Regions from separate parts of the Homo sapiens genome. Here regions 1 and 2 are each linked to region 3. The links come from fine-mapping of genetic effects on gene expression. A gene starts in region 3. Each other region holds a variant in brackets. All regions are shown on one strand. Distances are from middle to middle.

The links. PIP is the estimated chance that this variant, and not a neighbour inherited with it, causes the effect. A credible set is the group of variants that fine-mapping cannot tell apart.
Region 1: its variant is the best candidate, but not a certain one, in a credible set for the expression of DCP1A in testis (GTEx, PIP 0.54).
Region 2: its variant is the best candidate, but not a certain one, in a credible set for the expression of DCP1A in whole blood (INTERVAL, PIP 0.70).

The regions. Positions count from the first base shown.
Region 1 is chr3:53,262,162-53,269,559 of GRCh38, reverse strand. No RefSeq gene overlaps it. Among named protein-coding and RNA genes, the nearest start is that of TKT, 9.8 kb to the right of the region's middle. The variant A/C (reference allele first, on the strand shown) is at 3,296.
Region 2 is chr3:53,427,035-53,434,432 of GRCh38, reverse strand. No RefSeq gene overlaps it. Among named protein-coding and RNA genes, the nearest start is that of CACNA1D, 64 kb to the left of the region's middle. The variant C/T (reference allele first, on the strand shown) is at 4,141.
Region 3 is chr3:53,344,865-53,352,262 of GRCh38, reverse strand. It overlaps DCP1A (decapping mRNA 1A), which reads left to right and starts at 4,720. Exons shown (of 10, transcript NM_018403.7): 1 at 4,720-4,880; 2 at 7,321-7,361. The coding sequence starts at 4,746. LOC105377094 (a long non-coding RNA gene) reads left to right here. Exons shown (of 3, transcript XR_940847.3): 3 at 1,384-1,493. RefSeq lists enhancers at 4,226-4,995, 4,531-5,121, 5,122-5,712.

The DNA of each region.
Region 1 (7,398 bases), 83 kb after region 3:
CAATGGCTCACGCCTGTCATCCACGCACTTTGGGAGGCCAAGGTGGGTGGATCACGAGGTCAGGAGTTTGAGACCAGCCTGGCCAACATGGTGAAACTCCGTCTCTATTAAAAATTCAAAAAAATTAGCCGGGCGTGGTGGTGGGCACCTGTAATCCCAGCTACTGGGAGGCTGAGGCAGGAGAATCACTTGAACACAGAAGGCGGAGGTTGCAATGAGCCGAGATTGCACCACTGCACTCTGGCCTTGGTGACTGAGCGAGACTCCGCCTCTAAATAAATAAATAAAAGAAACACCTAGGTTAGTGTGTGATTGAATAACTGGGTACTAGTCTAGCCAAATTGACACATAAAACTGACCATCACAGTATTTTTGTTAAATTTCCAAATTTTCTACATGGAATATGTGTTACTTGTATAATATTTTTTAAAAAGCAATAAGTGACAAAACCACCGTAATGAGGTAACACTTTGCACCCACTAGGATGCTTCAGGTAAAAAAGATACAACAACAGGCCGGACGTGGTGCTCACGCTTATAATTCCAGAACTTTGGAAGGCTGAGGCGGGCAGATCACAAGGTCAGGAGCTTGAGACCAGTCTGGCCAATATGGTGAAACCCTGTCTCCACTAAAAATACAAAAAAATTAGCTGGGCATGGTGGTGGGTGCCTATAGTCCCAGCTACTCTCAGGAGGCTGAGGCAGGAGAATCGCTTGAACCCAGGAGGCAGAGGTTGCAGTGAGCCAAGATTGCGCCACTGCACTCCAGCCTGGGTTACAGAGCAAGGCTCCATCTCAAAAAAAAAAAAAAAAAATACAACAACAACTGTAGACAAAGTCATGGAGAAACTGGAACCCTCATTCATCACTGGTGAAACTGTAAAATGGTGGGGCCACTTTGGAAAATAGTTTGGCAGTTCCTCAAATGGTTAGATGACCGTTTGTAGAATTGCTGTATGACCCAGCAATTCCATTCCTGTGCATATACCCAAGATAACTGAAAACACAGGTCCACAAAAAAATGTTTATATCACCATTCAAAGCAGCATTATTCATAATAGCAAAGAAGTGGAAAAAAACCAAATGTCCGTGAACTGATGAATGGGTAGGAATATTGTGGCATATCCACAGGATGGAAAATTATTTATCAACAAAAGGAATAAAGTACTAATACAAGCGACAAGGCGGATGAACCTTGAAAACATCACACTGAGTGAAAGAAGTCAGACACAAAGATCACAAATTGCAATGGTGCCATTTATATGAAATATCCAGAATAGGCAAATCCATAGAGACCACAAGTAGATTCCTGGTTGCCTGGAATGAGGAAGAGGGAAAAATAGGGAACTATCAATGAGTACAGGTCTCTTTTTCTGGGTGGTAAAAATGTTCTAAAACTAGGCCAGGTGTGGTGGCTTACATCTGTAATCCAAGCATTTTGAGAGGCTGAGGCCAAAGAATCACTTGAGTGCAGGAGTTCAAGTCAAGTCTGGGCAACATAGGGACACCCTGTTTCTACAAATAATAAAAAAAACTGGCTGGGCATGGTGGCTCACACCTTTGCTGTCAGCAACTCTGGAGGCTGAGGTGGGAGGATGGTTTAAGCCCAGGAGGTCAAGGCTATGGTGAGTCACTGTACTCCAGCCTGGGCAACAGAGAGACCCTGTCTCAAAAAAAAAAAAAAAAGAATAAGTTCTAAAATTAGGTAGTGCTTAGAAGTGCACAAGCTGCACAATCTGTGAATATACCTATGGTATAATACAAAATATATTTGGTCTTTTTAGATTTGTTTAATTTTTAAAGATTTTTTATTTTTATTTTATATATATATATTTTTGGAGACGGAGTCTTGCTCTGTCGCCCAGGCTGGAGTGCAGTGGCGTGATCTCGGCTCACTGCAACCTCCGCCTCCCGGGTTCAAGTGATTCTCCTGCCTCAGCCTCCCAAGTAGCTGGGACTACAGGAGCACGCACTGCCACACCCGGCTAATTTTTTTCGTATTTTTAGTAGAGACAGGGTTTCACCATGTTGCCCAGGCTGGTCTTGAACTCCTCGGCTCAGGCAATCTGCCTGCCTCAACCTCCCAAAGTGCTGGGATTAGAGGTGTGAGCCACCACGCCCGGCCTAATTATTATTTTTTAAGAGACAGAATCTTGATCTGTCACCCAAGCTAGAGTGCAGTGGCACAATCATAGCTCATTGCAGCCTCGAACTACTGGGCTCAAGCAATTCTCCCACCTCAGCCCCTGGAGTAGACACTTGGCTAATTTTTTTTTTTTTTTTTTTTTTTTTTGAGACGGAGTCTCGCTCTGTCACCCAGGCTGGAGTGCAATGGTATGGTCTCGGCTCACTGCAACCTCTGCCTCCCGGATTCAAGCAATTCTCCCACCTCAGCCTCCTGAGTAGCTGGGACTACAGGCGTGTGCCATCACGCCTGGCTACTTTTTGTGTTTTTAGTAGAGACAGGGTTTCACTATGTTGGCCAGGCTAGTCTCGAACTCCTGACCTCATGATCTGCCCGCCTCGGCCTCCAGAGTAATGGGATTACAGGCATAAGCCACCATGCCCAGCCCAAATTTTCTTTATCCTTTCATCCTTTGGTGGATGCTTAGGTTACTTCCATATCTTTTTTTTTTTTTTTCCTTTTTTTGAGAGAAAGTCTTGCTCTGTCACCCAGGCTGGAATGCAGTGGCACGATCTTGGCTCACTGCAACCTCTGCCTCCCAGGCTTAAGCGATTCTCATGCCTCAGCCTCCCGAGTAGCTGGGATTACAGGCACGCGCCACCACACTCAACTAATTTTTATATTTTTAGTAGAGATGGGTTTTTGCCATGTTGGCCAGGCTGGTCTTGAACTCCTGGCCTCAAGTGATCTGCCTGCCTCTGCCTCCCAAAGTGCTGGGATTACAGGCATGAGCCACTACACCCAGCCTGCTTCCATATCTTGATGAAATATATTTAGTATTTGTCCCTAGTTCCTGTCACAGGGCTGAAAACCCTTGGAATTTGCTTAGCAGAAGGCATGTCTTTTGTTACTCATAAGCCACTCTTTGATCACACCTGCGTTTATGCTAACACAGTGACTTGGGGTGAGGCCTCTAGATAGGCTCGGGATGGGGCAGTCACCAGAAAGACCAAGTAATTAGAGGATTAGAGGTCTGGAACTTTCAGCTCCCTCTCCCCGCATACCTCACCCTATCTGTCTCTTCATCTGGCTATTTCTCTGATTCCTTTGTAATATCCTTTATAATAAACGGGTCATTATAAGTAAAATGTTTCCCTGAGTTCTGTGAGCC[A/C]CTCTAGCAAGTTAATTGAACCAGGGACGGGATCTTGGGAACCTCAATTTATAGTAAGTTCCTCAGAAGTTGCAGAGGCCAAGACCTGTGATTGGCATCTGAAGTAGGGGACAGTCTTACGGACCTGAGCCCTCAGTCTGTGGGATCTGACACTATCTCCAGATAGTGTCAGAATTGAGTTGAATTAGAGGACACACAGCTGGTGTCCACTGCAGGATTGCTTGATGGGGAGAAATCCTCACATATTTTGGTGACCAGGGACCACAGAAGTGTTCTGTGTTGTAGTGACTATATGAGAATTAAAAAAAAAAAATTAATTTATTTTCTCTATCCCTCAACACCAAAAATCATTGAATTATACACTTTTAAGGGAGGGTAGATTTCACGGTGTGTTCATTTTATCTCAAAATGAGATAAAAAATGTGATTAAGAAAAAAAAAAAAGAGGCTAGGTACAGTGGCTCATACCTATAATCCCAGCACTTTGGGAGTCCGAGGTGGGTGGATTGCTTGAACCCAGGAGTTTGGGACCAGCCTGGGCAACACAGCAAAACCCCATCTCTACAAAATAATTAGTAGGGCATGATGGCACACACCTGTGGTCCCAGCTACTCGGGAGGCTGAGGTAGGAGGATCACTTGAACCCGGGAGGTGGAGGTTGCAATGAGCTGAGATTGTGCCACTGCACTCCAGCTTAGACAACAGAGTAAGACCCTGTCTCAAAAAAAAAAAAAAAAAGAGAGAGAGAGAGAGACAGAGAGAGGCAATAAATGTGAAAGGAAAAAGAGGGGAAAGTCATGTGTACTTGGGTGGGCTGGCTCCCAGCAAAGTCGAGGAGCTGGTGCGTTTTTCTCCTGTCTCCAGACTCCCTTTCCTCCCCTTTGTCTCCCTCTCATGGGGCTCTTGCCCAGTCCCAGGACCCTGGAGTTTGCGGACATCGTGGTGAAAGTGATTTGCAAAACTCATCTCAGAATTCTCTCCTCTCATTGCACTTCCCTTTGCTACTGGCCAGAGGGGTCCAATACACTCCCACCCCCTACACGTAATTGCCCAGAAAAGTTTATGGGTCTATGACCTGAAAACTATCAGAAGTCTTCCAGCCCTACTAAACCTAGCTGGATCTGCTTTTCCCAGACAGAAAATGGCCCCAAGGGGCTCTGACTCGGCACACAGGGCCTGGCACAAGGGGAGAATTCAACCTCTGCATGTAGCAAGAATAAGCCTCTCTTACAGATGTGAGAAACAGGACTGGAGAAAGGGCTCCACTGAAGGCCATGCAGGTTTCGGGCTCCCTCTCTCCTCTCACTCTGTCAATCCCACAATGGGACCTTGCCAATTGGAAGCAAAGGTGATGAGTGGCAGAACCAGGCTTTCTGGCCAGCCCTCAGCCAAATATGTACCCAGATCTCTGGCAAAACTGCCACCTTCCTCTCAACACCTGCTGAGGACTCTGGTTCAGGAAATAACTCACCAGGAGGACAAGATTTAGGCACGAAAATGTTAACTGCAGGGCAATACCCAATGATTAACAGCTGGAAGGGGTCTGAGCGTTCAGCCCTAAGGGATGGTTAATAGATGAGGACACGGCCCTATGATGGGACAATGCACAGCTAGTAAAAATGATTTCTTCGAAGCATTTTGAAATGCTAATGAGAAAATATAGGGGGAAAATGGTTTTACATGATCCTGACAATGGATTTTTTTTTTTTTTTTTTTTTTTGTGACGGAGTTTCACTCTTTCGCCCAGGCTGGAGCGAAGTGGCGCGATCTCGGCTCGCTGCAACTTCCACCCGCCAGGTTCAAGCAATTCTCCTGCCTCAGCCTGCCGAGTAGCTGGGATTACAGGCACACGCACAGCTTCCTGAGTAGCTGGGATTACAGGCGCCCCCCACCACACCCAACTAATTTTTGTATTTTTTAGTAGAGATGGGGTTTCGCCATGTTGGCCAGGCTGGTCTCAAACTCCTGACCTCAGATGATCCGTCCACCTCAGCCTCCCAAAGTGCTGGGATTATAGGCATGAGCCACTGCATCTAGCCGACAATGTATTTTTTAAAACAAGGAATTCACAATAGCAAACATACTGAGCAATGACTGTCTTCAGCCTTGCCTGACAACCTGAAGTGTATATCCAGCCCCTGACCCCTGACCCTGACCCTATTGTATTTATTTATTTACTTTTGAGACAAGATCTGGCTCTGTCACCAAGGCTAGAATGCACTGGCTCAATCATGGCTCACTGCAGCCTCGAACTCCTGGGCTTAAACAAGCCTCCCACCTCAGCTTCCTGAGTAGCTGGGACTACAGGTACAGGCCACCATGCCCGGCTAATTTTTAATTTTTTTTTTTTTTAAATGGAGTCTCGCCCTGTTGCCTAGGCTGGAGTGCAGGGGCACGATCTAGGCTCACTGCAACCTCTGCCTCCTGGGTTCAAGCAATTCTCCTGCCTCAGCCTCCTGAGTAGCTGGGACTACAGGTGTGCACCACCACACCCAGCTAATTTTTGTATTTTTAGTAGAGATGGGGTTTCACCATGTTAGCCGGGCTGGTCTGGAACTCCTGACCTCAGGTGATCTGCCCGCCTCGGCCTCCCAAAGTGCTGGGATTACAGACGTGAGCCACCGTGCTCAGCCTAATTTTTAAATTTTTAGTTTGTAGAGACAGGGTATCACCATGTTGTGCAGGCTTGTCTCATGCTCCTGGACTCAAGCAATCTTCCTGCCTTAGCCTCCCAATGTGCTACAGGTGTGTGTGAGTCACTGTGCCCGGCCTATTTTCTTCATAACAATTATATATAATAAATCAATATTTGTCAAATGAGCAAGCAACTTTAACAGTAGTCCCCTTTGAGTGGAATAGTCCATGATTTTAGTTTACTTTGAAATTTTCTGGGCCAAGTATGGTGGCTCACGCCCGTAATCCCAGCACTTTGGGAAATTGAGGTGGGTGGGTCGCTTGAGCCCAGGAGTTCGAAACCAGCCTGGGCAACATGGCAAAACCCCATCTCTACCAAAAATACTAAAAATTAGTCAGGCATGATGGTGCATGCCTATAGTCTCAGCTACTCAGGAGGCTGAGGTGGGAGAATCCCTTTGAGCCCAGGAGACAGAGGTTGCAGTGAGCCAAGATTGTGCCACTGTACTCCAGCCTAGGCAAAAGCAAGACCCAGTCAGAAAAAAAAAAAAAAATTCTGTACTTTTAAAGTTTTTCCGATGACTATGTTTTACTTCGATAATCAGAAATTGAGTGTTTTTAGGCCGGGCACAGTGGCTCACACCTGTAATCCCAGCACTTTGGGAGGCCAAGGCTGGTGGATCACCTGAGGTCAGGAGTTCAAGATCAGCCTGGCCAACAGGGCAAAATCCCATCTTTACTAAAAATACAGAAATAGGCTGGCCACAGTGGTGTATGCCTGTAATCTCAGTGCTTTGGGAGGCCCAGGCGGGCAGATCATGAGGTCAGGAGTTCCAGACCAGCCTGGCTAACATAGTGAAACCCTGTCTCTACTAAAAATACAAAAATTAGCTGGGCACGGTGGTGTGTGCCTGTAATCCCAGCTACTCGGGAGGCTGAGGCAGGAGAATTGCTTGAACCTGGGAGGCTGAGGTTGCAGTGAGCTGAAATCGTGCCACTGCACTCCAGCCTAGGTGACAGAGCGAGACTCTGTCTCAAAAAAAAAAAAAAAAAAAATAGCTGGGCCCAGTGGCACATGCCTGTAGGCCCAGCTACTCAGGAGACTGAAGCACAAAAATCGCTTGAACCCGGGAGGCGGAGGTTACAGTGAGCTGAGATTGTGCCACTACACTCTAGCCTGGAGGACGGAGCTAGACTCTGTCTCAAAAAAAGAAGGAGGAGGAGGAGGAAGAGGGAAGAGGGAAGAAGGAGAAGAAGGAGAAGGAGAAGAAGAAGAAGAAGAAGAGGAAGAGGAAGAGGAAGAGGAAGAAGAAGAAGAAGAAATTGAATGTTTTTAAAAAACAAGAATAAATTGAGTACAAGAGAACTGAGACATTCTGTGAATGAGTTGAAACATTTGTGTTCTCAAATGGGAGCTACATTATCGAAAGAGGCATTTCCCCAAAAATGCCTCCCAAAGGAAATTTCAGG
Region 2 (7,398 bases), 82 kb before region 3:
GTAAGTTAGAGTTCAATGTTTCATTTATGAAATGTGTTATAGAATTGTGACTCAGATTATTCAGACCCCTTAGATGTCATCTAGCCAAATCCCTTACCCACTACACCAAAAACTCCCTCTTCATTCCAAGTGTACATTCATTTCTTATTTTAATAAGAAGTAATACTGCTGGGTGCATCGAAATCTCAGAAATAACTGCTAAAGAACTTATCTATGTAACCAAAAACCACCTGTTCCCCAAAAGCCATTGAAATAAAATTTTAAAAAGAGGCTGGGTGCAGTGGCTCACACCTATAATCCCACTTCTTTGGGAGGCTGAGACAAGTGGATCACTTGAGATCAGGAGTTTGAGACCAGCCTGACCAATATGGTGAAACCCATCTCTACTAAAAATGCAAAAATTAGCTGGGTGTGGTAGGAGGTGCCTGTGGTCCCAGCTACTAGGGAGGTTGAGGCAGGAGAATTTCTTAAACCCAGGAGGCAGAGGTTGCAGTGAGCTGAAATCACGCCATTGCACTCCAGCCTGGGCAACAGAGCAAAACTCCAACTCAAAAAAAGAAAAGAAGAAGAAGAAGTAATACTTATGTACACATTTATTTAAGCCAAAGTCAAATTTTTATTTGGGAAGATTTTGTTTATTACTAAATTTCCTTAAGTCATGTACACCACACACTGCACATAGTCAGCACTCAAATGATTTGCTAAATGAATGAATAAATGCAGGATGACAATGTTTACAAATACAAATGAGTTAGAGTTCACCATCAATACAGAGCTATGAGGGGAGGTGAAGATCCAGAGGCAATAGAACAAGGAGTGCTCAGTAAACTAGAAGAAGCTCATCATTTCAGTTGGTGGATATATAAGGAATGAGGCCAGAATGACAAGTCAAGGGCAGATCAAGAAGAACGTGAAAAGCTCTGCTAAAAACCCTTCAAAGGGGGAATTTTCAACGTATTGGGTAAGGAATTTGGCTAGATTATAGCTAAGAGGTTTGAATGAATCAAATCTTCAAAGATGTACCAAGTTAAATGCAGTTTCCCCATCCTGACACTCAAGACTGTACAACACATCTCAGTCTCTCAGTCTACCCCCTAGTCTTTTCTCACTTGCTAGTCTTTTTTCTCTCTCTCTCTCTCTCTCTCTCTCTCTCTTTTGAGTCAGGGTCTCACTCTGTTGCCCAGGCTGAGTGCATTCGTGTGATCATGGTTCACTGCAGCCTCGACCTCCCAGGCTCAAGCTATCCTCCAGCCTCAGCCTCCTGAGTAGCTGGAACTACAGGCGCACACCACCATGCCTGACTGATTTATTTTCCATTTTTTGTAGAGACGGGGTTTCATCAGGTTGCTCAGACTGATCTCAAAATCCTGGGCTCAAGCCACCCACCCATCTTGGCCTCCCAAAGTGCTGGGATTACAGGCATGAGCCACCGTGCCCAGCCTCACTTGCTAGTCTTTTACAACACTGACTGTTCTATGATGTTGCTTATGCTTTGTCCTCACTCTAGGACCACTCCAAACTTGGTTTCGGTTCTTAACATTCCAACATGGAATGAGAAAAATCAACATGTGAAATCCAGGAGTGGTAAGTAGATCTATAATAGGTTGAGGAAACAGACAGAATAAACTATTCTTCAATATACGAAAAGTTAATCACAGTGAGCTTAAATAGTTGTTCCTTTAGTATACTCGAGTGTCGGTTTACACACTATGAACTGCTTTACAAAGTCCCTGAACGGGGGAAGAAACATAAAGCATAAAATGCAAGGAACTACTGCCAATCAAAGGCAAATCCAAAATAAATATAGTCATCTTTTCTGAATGGGAAAAAAAAAAGAAGAAAGTCATATTCTATTTACTAACATTCATTTCACACATCACTCTTTAGAAATGGATTTCTTGCAAAAGTAAGATGCACTTAAATTATTCACTAATAATGCCATCATTCAACCAAAATTTACTGGGTGCACCAATGTGCCAGGCAGTACAGTATACAGCAGGGACAGGGCCATAAGCAGGTGGGCTTTCAGAGCTTAGTATTTGCTGGGGAAATAGTCCCACAGCAGAGAATACAATAAGCTCTAATATCCGCCTTGGCAGCCTGTAAGGGTCAAAGAAAGCCATTCCAGATTAGATGGAACGAAATAATGAAATTATAGCTGGGGGTGGAGGGGAGTATCAGCAGTCTAGGCTTTAGTCCTGATTTTGCGAACAAGTTACTATATTGTATTCGGGCATGACATTCCCAACTGTAGCTCACTGCAGCCTCGACTTGCAGCCTGGGAGGTCTAGGCTGCAGTGAGCTACGATCAGATATGTCATGCCCAAATACGATTACAGTAACTTATTGGCCTCTATATTTTTGGCCTTGATTTCTCCACCTGTAATGTGAGGTCATGGATTAGGTGATTCTAAAGTCCCTTTAATTCAATATGAATCAAAACTGAGAATAATTATTAGAGGCTTGGTTTCGAACAATTGAAAGACCAGAAAATTATGCAAGTAACTAAGTGTGATCGTTGGAGTGTGGGAGGGGGTAATATTGTTTTTGATGTGATTCTGTACTTATGCATCAGGGAACATGAGCATGAAGATTCTCTTCAAGAAGCAGCACTGCCTATAGCCATGATGTGGTGCAGCTTCCCAGTAGCTGGGTTGATGGTTTGGGGAACCAGTAACATGATAGACAATTTAGAAATGAAGAAACTGAAGCATCGCAAAGTTAAGCACCCGAGATGATACCATAGATCAACTGTAAAGTGCACAAATAATTTGCACGAGGTTGTTAATTATATTATTCTCTAATTAGTCTGCACTTGTTCTCCAAACAGTGATTTCTTAAGATAAGAATGTACATGTATTCAAGACTGTGCTCATCACTTACCAGTCTCTGGTATTAGATCATCTATTTGTTTGGTCTGTTTATTGTCTGCCTCTCTCTCTAGAGTATAATTCCATGTGGGCAGGAGCTTTGTCTCATCTTGTTGTATCTCTCCAGTGCCTTGGAACTGTGCTGGTGCAAAATAAGCACTTAATACATATTGTTGATTTGATGGAAGGATGCTTAAAAAGTACTCTGAGAGAAACAATATATTTCTCAACTCTGAAGGAAAATTTCATGGAACACTTGAAGTTAGTGAAAAATACAGAATAATTTATAAGCAAGAATCAAATTATTTAACATAGATTTGTGCTCTAAAGTTGAAGAAATCAAGTAAAATGATCAGTAAATTCTACAGCAATTGAGAAACTTCAAAAAAAATGGAACTTGAATTAGACTCTGAAAGGTGGAAGTTTTGGGTTTGGAATAAGGGAGATGGGAAAGCAGTGAATGAAGCCAATGAAAATGGCGCATGAGACCAGACAGATTTAAGAAGAGTTCCTTTTGGGGAATAAAATGGCAAGTAAAGTTGTAAGAGCAGGTGAATCACAGCTTTTGGAAGATCCTCCAAGAAAAAGGAAAGATTCAGACTTGATGTGATAGAGACAGGAAGCCCAGAAATAGCAAGATTAAAATCTTGCCTCCCAAATTAGATTGCAGCAACCCTCCTTTTCCTTGGGCCCTCAACCAACAATGCCCAAAGCTGGTCATGCAGTAGCTGTTTAATTAGTACTTGCTGATTCATAGAATTCCAATCAAAGACCCGGCTCTTCGATCAACGCTTTATTACTCACAGACAGACCCCACTGGAAAGGGGCAATGGTGCAATTTTATTTCCCATCCATCTTTTGTTCCCTTTTTCCTGCCTGCTACTGTTTAGAGTCCAGAAAAAAAAAAAAAGTATTACGAACTAAGTCACTGCCTCATTAGGAAGCAGGGTCTGATCTGAAACCAATTTTTCAGAACAATGACTTGTTAAGTGCTGAGAAATGCAGTGTTTAGTCATGGAGAAAATAAAGACAGCTTTACCATGCAATTTGGTTTTTTTCTATACTAAAAGATGAGAATTTTAACAAGTGGAGGGAACCAGTCCATTATCAAGTCCCTCCTCCTTCAAAGAGGGAAACAGAACATGCTTTTTAGTGCACAAACAGAAAAGGCTTCTTCTCCCTCACTCCCCGTATTTTCTTGCTTAAAATTCAGAATTAATGTCAGCCTTGCAAGAAGGTGAGGAAGCTCAGAAAAGAGGGTGTGTAGAGC[C/T]CAGAACAAATCTCCTTGCGAAGGACAGATTGGGTGAGCATTGTCAGGTGAGAGTGTATGGTGAGCAGTCTTCCACAGTTATCAGTGATGACTGAAGGGCAATGAGGTCTGGATACTGAGAGGAGAAGTTATGGAATTTCCAGAGTAACAAGTCACCTGCAAATATCAAAATGACATGGACAAAAGGTGATGCTAGTTTTATTTAAGAAGTATTTCAGAATAAGTCAGTGGGAATAATGTCTATCCTATCATTTATATGGTCTCTGAAAGATAAATGGGTAGAAAATGAAAACTATTTGACTCCATCCATTAAGAAGCCCACTGAAGGAAGAAGAGAGGCAGAATACTAATGCAACAATGTCATTTTGGCATAAAATAGAAGATACTCCAAGATATTCTTCCTATAGCTTAGAACGCACAGTTCATTGTCCATTTCCTCTATAGAGTCATTGCTTTCTGTCTGCTCCTGGTCACATATTTTAACTGTAACTTCAACAAATTAGTCAGCAAATTTGTACCATCTATCACAAGGACACCAGTTCAGAGAATAGAAGTAGCTCTAACTCATGTTTAAGTTCACTTTTGGAAGAAACATCTAAAACATAGGTTCTACAGATGGTTAGCCTACCATATCAGATTTTTATCTAAAAATATCATGTAAAACAAAGCAGTCAGAGAACATCCCCTCCCTGCCACTGGGCAGGCTTTCCAGAATCTCAAGCAGTTGCTCTTCCCTTGTCCTGAGTGGTCCCATCCTGGTCTTGTTGAAGAAGATCGTGGAAATGGAGGTTTTGAGGGCACACCCCTAACTACTGCATATTTGTCATTCCCTCCTCTTCTCTTCCCTTCTAGCTCTCAGAGCATATGAGTGTAGATGTACTTTTAATTTGGAGATACACAGATTAGCCCTTCATTATTAGCTGTACTATGCTTATATTTCAAATGTATACATGTTAATTTCATCTCCCGTCTACTCTAACTTGTATGCTCTTTGGGGTGAGGGATTAGCTTCACTTTTGTGTCTCCCAAAATGCCTATAAAAAATGTTGGGCCAACACAGGAGGATTACTTGAGCCCAGAAGTTTGAGATCAGCCTGGACAATATAGTAAGACCTCATCTCTAAAAAAGTAATAAGTAAAAAAGAATGCTGGGTACATGCTTTGGCAAACAGTTTAGCAGTTCCACAAACAATTAAACATAGAGTGACCATATGACCCAGTGGTCTAATCTTATACCCTAGAGAAGTGAAAATATACATAAACATATGAAAAACTTATACACAGATGTTCAGAAAAGCATTATTTATAATAGCCAAGAAGTGAAAACAGCCCAAATATCCATCAGCTGATGAACAGATAAACCAAATATGGTATATTCACACAATGGAATATTATTCAACCCCGAAAGGAATGAAGTACTGATACATGCTACCATGGATGAACCTTGAAAACATTATGCTCAATGAGAGAAGCCAGTCATGCGCAGAGGCTCACGTCTGTAATCCCAGCACTTTGGGAGGCTGAGGTGGATGGATCACTTGAGGTCAGAAGTTCAAGACCAGCCTGGCCAACATGGTGAAACCCCATCTCTACTAAAAATACAAAAAATTAGCCAGGTGTGATGGTGGGCGCCTGTAATCCCAGCTACTTGGGAGGCAGAGGCAGGAAAATTGCTTGAACCCAAGAGGCAGAGGTTGCAGTGTGCTAAGATCTTACCACTGTACTCCAGCCTAGGTGACAGAGAAAGACTGTGTCTCAAAAAAAAGAAAAAAGAAAGAAGCCAGACATAAAAAGCCATATATCGTATGATTCCATTTACATAAAATGTCCATAATGGGCAAATCCATAGAGACTGAAAGTCGATTACTGGTCACCAGAAATGCAGGTGGAGGAACAGAGGGTCACCGCTAATGGGTACAGGATTTCTTTTGCGGATATAAAAATGTTCTGAAATTAGATAGTGGTGATGTTTGTACAACTTTGTGACTATACTAAAAAACCACTGGGTCATACACTTAAAATATGAAAATTTTATGGTTTGTGAATTATATCTCAATTTTTTTAATGTTGGGCACATCAAAAAATAAGTGAAAGTGAAGTTTCCAAAGATAATTTAGGGAAAGAAACCCCAGAAACTATGCCTACCTGTCTTTGGTACAGTCATTCCTTCCCGTTACCACATTGTGAGCTAGAGGCCTTCTCCACTCCTGGACTCTTACCTGAGAGAGGATGTGTAGCAGCCGTGAAAACACACTGCTTAGGCCCCCTGCTGCAGGGGAATCACTGACTGATGGCTCCAGCTGCTACTCCTCTGGATTTGCCACCACATTTGTGCCAGGCTTCCACGGGCTGCTCTCAACCAACGGCTGGCCACAGCAGGGGTACTAATGCAGGCTTATTCTAGCAAGACAGAGAGTCCTCCAACAGGCAACTTTAGCTTGAGGACTCCCCATCTATCTGGCACCACCAACAAGTTTAGTGATGGTTCTTCTCTGCAGGCCAGCGTTCATGATTGGAAAGGCAATCAGAGCTGGGCTCCTTAATATTCATGTATACTATGGGGCCCAAAGACATAGAGGCTTGTGGCAGGGAAAGGGACTTAACACACAGAGTTTAGAGATGGTGAATAGAGCCTATAATGTTCCTGGGGCAAAACAGATGGACAGCCATCAAGGGTGCTACTTAACATCTACAAGCAACACATACACACACACACACGCACACACTAAAAGGAAGAATGGAGCTTGAGGGTGATCACAAACAAACAAACAAACAAACAAACCAAAAACTTGCTTTCCCTTTCCCTCACTCTGTTCCCAGCCCAAGGCAACTTTTAGATCTGGAACCCACTGCCCAAAGGAGGTGAGGTGGCCAAGTCCCTTAACAACACAGCAAGTTATACTATAATGATTCCCCCAGTTCTTCTTCCAAGGATCTAGAACCATTTACTCATGTGATTATATAGAAAAAAATAGAGAAATTTCCAGACTTTTTGAGAACGATTAGACACAGAATCTGAGCTAACACGGACACCTAGAAACCCAAAGCCTCATCACAGGTCTCCCATTATTACCTTATGTGGAGGCCATAAATTGAGTCCTGGTTATGGTCCAGTTCACAGGGAGCCTCGGTCCATGGGCCCACCTAGTGGTCATTTCCCCACTGCATGTATAATTGGAATGGATGTCCTTGGTAAATGACGTAAGCCCCACACTGGGTCCTTGGCTTGTGGAGTAAGAGCTATCATAGTGGTGATAG
Region 3 (7,398 bases):
AATATTCATATTATCTTTAATATGTCCTAAGAGCTATATGGGGCATCAGAGCATGTTTAGAGGCAGGCAAATATGTATTTCGGAGTGATTTTCTTTTTTTGTTTGTTTGTTTGTTTGTTTTGAGACAGAGTCTCACTGTCGCCCAGGCTGGAGTGTAGTGGCACGATCTCAGCTTGCTGCAAGCTCCACCTCCCGGGTTCACGCCATTCTCCTGCCTTAGCCTCCCGAGTAGCTGGGACTACAAGCGCCCGCCACCATGCCTGGCTAATTTTTTGTATTTTTAGTAGAGACGGGGTTTCACTGTGTTAGCCAGGATGGTCTCAATCTCCTGACTTTGTGATCCGCGCACCTCAGCCTCCCAAAGTTCTGGGATTATAGGCATGAGCCACCGCACCCGGCCCAGAGTAATTTTCTATTCCAAATATGAAAATTCCCTAAAATAACTTGGTGTTCTTTAATAGGCTAGCCCTGCTCAATCAAAAATAGTAAATTAAAATGAAATGTCTTCGATTATTTTAGGAAATCTATGTAAGAAAAAAAACTAAGTTTCAGGTGTGCCTTTTGAATTTTGTACCAGATGAATGTATGTTTTTTAAACATTAAAGTGCAGATTTTTAAAAATTAGGGTGCGGATTTTTAAAACAGATTGAAGGTAAGTAGAGAGGAATAGGGCTCTTACCTCCAGCCACTGGAAGGAAGAAAGGCATCTGGGGCGTGTAGGAAAGGATCCCAGGGTAGAAGATAGGAGTCCCTAGATTCTAATACTGGATCCTCTGTGACTAGTGTGGAATTTTGAGCCAGTGAATTCTCCCCACAGGTCTCAATTAAATCATCTGTCAAATGAGGGTGACGACATCTTCTCTACCTCACCACTGAGCTGTGAAATGAACCAGAGGCCTTACTTTTTTCCCCTGAACTCCCAGTCATCCCTAGAACACCAATTTGAACATCATCTCCTTCAGGAAGCCCTCCTAGACTTTCCCAGCCAGTTAAGTTAGCGGCTCTGTCCTCTGGATTTCAAAGAGAAATGTCTCTAGCATCATCCCTGTTTCCTTGCACTGTCCTACTTTCTTTTTTCCCTCAGAGCCAGGAATGTCTTAAACAGAGTGAGATGCTCCCAAGGGGCCACCAGCTCACAATTAGGAGTTCAATAAATACTGACTTAAGAGTGAATGAATGATATCTGTGTCTTTGTCCACATTTGTACATGTTTACATGATTCTGCAAAGAATCTAAATTTCTCTTTACATTAACAAACAGGGGGGCTGGGCACGGTGGCTCAAGCCTGTAATCTCAGCATTTTTGTTAACCAGGACAGCCCTGACAAAATAACTGGGAAAGTTCCTTTTTCTTATTGTTTTTCTTTGGTCCCTTTATCTATAGACACTGCTGCTTAAAGAAACCAGATGGCGCCAGAGCTTCTTGACCCCTGACCAGATGCCAGAGGAAGATAAGACACCATAAAACCAGCGCAAATGGGAACTGGCAAACCCTGGGTGCCTTTAGATCATGAACATATCATTATAATGCTAATTTCCCTTCCCTAAAAGAAAATCTCTGCCATTTTGTGTACATATGATATATGAAGATGCATGTTTATGAATTGGGCCTGCGTGTCTGGAGTCCCACCCTGCACATACTAACATTCCTTTCCTGCCCCATAGGAATAAAGGCAATAAACCCCTTGCCTTTTATTCTTCAAGAAAAGATGCTTTCAGAGGAAGAGCTCACCTTCTCCATTCCCTGGCAAATGAATAAAACCTGATTGCCTTTTTCAATGGGATATTCTTTGTTTGTGACTGATACACAGTGGGGAAAAAACTCATTTTATCAGGGACACTTTGGGAGACCCAGGCCAGAGGATTGGTTGAGGCCAGGAGTTTGAGACCAGCCTGGGCAATAGAGCCAGACCCCATTTCTAAAAAAAAAAAAAAAAAAAAAAAAAAAAAGTTTTAATTAGCCAGGTGTGCTGGCACACAATTCAAGTTGTTTCACCTTTCTGGACAGAACCAATATACACCTGAAATGTATTTGATGTCTCATCTCTCCCAAAAATGTATAAAACCAAGCTGTGCCCCAATCACCTTGGGCACATGTTCTCAGGATCTCCTGAGAGCTATGTCAAGGGCTATGGTCACTCATAGTTGGATCAGAATAAATTTCTTCAACTATTTTACAGAGTTTGACTCTTCTCATCAACACAATGACAAAAAACAGTGGTCCTGGGATATAAAATCATAGGCAATACAAATATTTAGTGTTATTTTCTTGAAAATATGGTTTTATCTTACAAAAATTTTCAATTCTGTTGGGGATGTCAATTTTTTTTTCTTTCCAGACGTAGTCTTGCTATGTTGCTCAGGCTGGTCTTGAACTCCTGACCTCAAGTGATCCCCACCTCAGCCTACCAAATAGCTGGGACTACAGTTACATGCCACCATGCCCCCCCCTTTTTTTTTTTGGATGGAATTTCTCCCTCTGTTGCCCAAGCTCTGGAGTGTAGTGGTGCAATCTTGTGTCACTGCAACCTCCGTCTCCTGGGTTCAAGCTATTCTCATGCCTCAGCCTCTTGAGTAGCTGAGATTACAGGCATGTGCCACCACGCCCAGCTAATTTTTGTATTTTTAGTATAGATGGGGTTTCACCATGTTGGCCAGGCTGGTCTCCAACTCCTGACCTCAAGTGGTCCACCTTCCTCGGCCTTCCAGAGTGTTAGGATTACAGGCGTGAGCCCACACATCTAGCTACCATACCCTTTTTTTTTTTTTTTTTTTGAGTCTTGCTCTGTCGCCCAGGCTGGAGTGCAATGGCACCACCTTGGCTCACTGCAACCTCCGCCTCCCGGGTTCAAGTGATTCTCCTGTCTCAGCCTCCCAAGCAGCTGGGACTATAGGCGTGCGCCACCACGCCCGGCTAATTTTTGTATTTTTAGTAGAGACGGGGTTTCACCATATTGTCCAGGCTGGTCTCAAACTCCTGACCTCAGGCGGTCTTCCCACCTTAGCCTCCCAAAGTGCTGGGATTACAGGCATGAGCCACCACGCCCAGCCTCCATGACCTTTTTAACGAAAGAAATGTTGCTTTTTAAGAAGTCTGGCGGGGATAGAACTCCCTATAGTCTCCATGATTTGTTTTACTTGTTAGCTAGTGCCTAACTCTTTCAAACGCTTTAAAATGCTCAACAGACACTTACCAATGAAATGAGTGATCTGCTTAATGCTTTAAATGAAGCAAGACAAATTAAACCCTTCATGGACTCTTCCCAGGGCTGGACAAAAATATTTATGTGGGTCAGACGCAGTGGCTCACGCCTGTAATCCCAGCACTTTGGGAGGCCAAGGAGGGCAGATCACCTGAGGTCAGGAGTTCAAAACCAGCCTGGCCAATGTGGTGAAACCTCGTCACTACTAAAAAAAATACAAAAATTAGCTGGGCGTGGTGGCGGGCGCCCGTAATCCCGGCTACTCTGGAGGCTGACGCAGGAGAATCGCTTGAACCCAGGAGGCAGAAGTTGCAGTGAGCTGAGATCGCGCCACGGCACTCCAGTCTGGGCGACAGAGCGAAACTCCATTTCAAAAAAAAGAAAAAGAAAAAGAAAAAATTAGCCAGGTGTGGTGGCGGGCGCCTGTAATCCCACCTAATTGGGAGGCTGAGGCAGGAGAATCGCTTGAACCCTGGAGGCAGAGGTTGCAGTGAGCTTGAGATTGTGCCACGGCACTCCTGCCTGGGCAAAAGAGCGAGACTCCGTTTCAAAAAGAAAAAAAGAAAAGGGCCGGGCGCGGTGGCTCAAGCCTGTAATCTCAGCACTTTGGGAGGCAGAGGCGGGTGGATCGCCTGAGGTCAGGAGTTCGAGACTAGCCTGGCCAACATGGCGAAACCCCGTCTCTACTATAAACACAAAAATTATCAGGGCATGGTGGCGCGCCCATGTAATCCCAGCTACTGGGGACGCTGAGACAGGAGAATCGCTTGAACCTTGGAGGCGGAGGTTGCAGTGAGTCGAGATCGCGCCACTGCACTTCAGCCTGGGCGACAAGAGTGAAACTCCGTCTCAAAAAAAAAGAAAAAAAATCCACTTGTACCTTCTGCTAATCAGTGTATATATTCAAGGCAACTTGAATCTATGCTCCTGGGGTGCAATCCTCAAGCTTGGCCCAAATAAACTCTCTGCTTGCATTTATTTTGCCCCAGAGTCTTCTTCCTTTTAGGTCGACACATCCATATCTGAGACCTAGGGTAATTTTCTGGGCTTCTCGCCTCTCCCTTTCCCCCATGTTTTTCTGTGCTCTCTAAACGGGCCCGGTAGAGTCCCGCATTTCCACATTCCACAGACATGTTTTCCTTCTGTGGCCCCGGGCCCTGCCAGACAGCGCACCGCGAGGCCGGCACTTCGGCGGTCTCCAACCTTTGCCTGGAAAGAGCTCGGCAGGCGAGCTAGAGGCCAGATCCCAGGACCCAGTCGTTTTAGCTCAGGGAAAGGAAGCGCCGGAGCTCCAGCCTGCAAGCTCCACTACGCAGCCTTGGACACCGCCCACATCGTAGGGCCGCGGACCCTGACAACGCCGGAACCCGGCGCCCGGAGCGTGCGCGCGGCGGACCAGAATGGCTGACGTACCGCCCTGCCGCGAGGCCCGCGTAGAGGCGGAAGTTGAGGGGACTGACGCAGATGGGGGAATTTTGCCTCGATGGCACTTTCCTGTCCGCGACTCCGCCCCCACCAGAGGGGCTAGGCTCTGGGATTCAAGATGGAGGCGCTGAGTCGAGCTGGGCAGGAGATGAGCCTAGCGGCCCTGAAGCAACACGACCCCTATATCACCAGCATCGCAGACCTCACGGGCCAGGTCGCTCTGTACACCTTCTGCCCCAAGGCCAACCAGTGGGTGAGTGCCGCCTGGCCCTGAGGACGGCCACCCGGCCGCTGCCGTCTCTTAAAGGGGCCGCGCGGGTTACTGTGGGGTGGGGGGGCACACTAAGAGGCCAGGGCGGTGGAGACGAGGCCAGGGTCTGGCCAAGAGCCTAGCCAGAGCCTGAGGGGTGTCGGGTCCGCTTGGGATTGGGGGATAGGAGTGAGAGAAGTGGCTCGAGACATCCCAAGGAAAAGCCAGTGGAGGGGAGGATTGGAGCAGGATCAGTCCCTTGGCGTCGGGTCTGGGGACGTGGGCGACCTGCCTTCTTTGCAGATACATTGGGAGTTATAAGACCGGTGGGGTCAAAAGGGTGCCTGAAAGCTTGTGTTTGAGGCTTTGCGGATTATTAGATAAATTATATGTACATTATCTATAAAATAAACACTCCTCCTCTCCCCCTGGCAAACGTAAATGAGAGCCCCTGTCGCAGAGGTCATTTGGGTTTAAAGTTTAAAATCCAATTAGTTTCGATTCTTGGAAGGAGGGGGTGGGTGGGTCCGGCTTTAATCGAACTACACAGAGTTTCGGAAAAGATTCCAAGGCACTTAGGAAAAGGGCTTCCGTGTTCACTGGATCCCCGAAGACCTTTGTACAAACAAGAGAGACCCTGTAAATGTGTTTTGTTCCATCTATGATGCTGGTGATGTCATCTCTGAATGCTCCCCTCGGACTCAGTACTTTCTGGCTTTCGTGCACTGGGGAGGGTCCGAAAAGTCACATTCAGTGTGTTCACTGATTCTTGTTAGCCCCTGCTTGAAGCTTTGTTAGTTGTTTAAAAAGCATAATTTCCCACTTTCTTGTAATTGACCCTTCCTAATTAACTCATTCAGCTACAGGCTTTACACTTAGAAAGTAATACGTAAATGCTTGTTGGATTGAATTCACCAATGACTGGAGTTCACATTTCAATAAGATACGAAATCCTTAAACTGACAGAACTCTGGAAGATGACCGTAGTATGTCGTTTACCCTATAATACAGTTGCATAGATTATATTTATCAGTAATTTATCGAAAATCATTTGGCATTTATGAACAGTTAATTCAGATGAAGAGTTTTTATAATCACGTTGTTTATCTTTGCCTCCTGGAAGAGAAGGAGATATGGGAAGCCACAAGGAATAAAATTGTAGATTGTTTTTTAAATGTAGCTATTTTAGACATTGCCTTAGTTTGAAATTTTATGAATCTTTTTTCTTTTCTTGGCCTATATATAAATTTTGAAATATGGATTGCCGACAAATGGTGAAGACTTGGGGCTAGAGTTTTCCTAGTTTTTCACAAAGGCTTTCAATATTTTAAAATTTTACATTGTGGAGTTCTGTTTTAAATATGAAATACAAGCTATAATAACCTGAATTGAAAAATAAGCTGCTACTGTTTATTTGGATCCTGGCACATAGAGCATGACAAAAATCTTTTCCCTCTTTATTATTTTACAGTGAGTTGTAACTTTGCATGATGTTTTTTGGTGGGCAAATTTTCTTTTACTGTAAGACAGTTGATTACCAGTTTCTTATAGTAATAACCTAACATTTTAAAGGTAAGAAAAAGCCTCTGAATCCTTAGGAAGGAAAATAATGATATTTAAGCTAGGGTAGTACTTCTGGAAGAAATCGAGATGATCAATTTTCTAAATTTTTTAATCCCAACACATTCAATATATGACTAACATTTAAAATGTTAATAATGCGTTGATTACAGTAAAATATTTAGGTCCATTGTAGGCTGTAAATTGCAGACTAATAAGCTTATTTATTTTTTAAAAAACACTGAACTGTGTTTAAAACCTAAATACACTCTTGTCACAGAAAATGAACTATGGTAAAGGCCTCCAATAATTACACTGAGGCAGGGTATACTTTCAGTATTCAAGATTCTTCAAGTTCTAAAAATAACAAGCTGATTTTGTTTGGTAGTAATTCTTAACCACAAAATTTGCTAGTTGTCAAAATGTACGAAAACTCCCTAGTGATGAAACAAAGTATCCTATAAGAAAGTTTCATTCCTTTCCTTTTTTAAAATTAACTTGGATAAACTTAAAAGAGAAGAAATTGCAGTATACAGGACCTTAGCTTTAAAGTTAAGAAATCTGGCTAAAATATTTTAGCTATAAAAAGTGAAGGTTTATTCTATGATTTTCTCCTTTACTAATTAAAAAAGAAAAATACTGCAGATACAGATATGTTGCTGGATTAAATATTGCATATGCTTATGCACTGAAAGGATACATTAGAAATGGTAACCACAATTTGTGGAATGAGAGGGAGACTTTACCTGTTCAAAAGTGGTTAATTTTATAATAGATGAAATGAAACAAGTTGATCTTAAACGTGAAGCATTACTTCTCCATGGGGACTATTTGGGGTCTGATTATGGGGAAAAAAAACTAATTGAGTCATTGTCTTTCATAGGAGAAGACTGATATAGAAGGGACCTTATTCGTATATCGAAGGTAAGTTTTTAAAATATGTATATTTGTTTTTAACAGT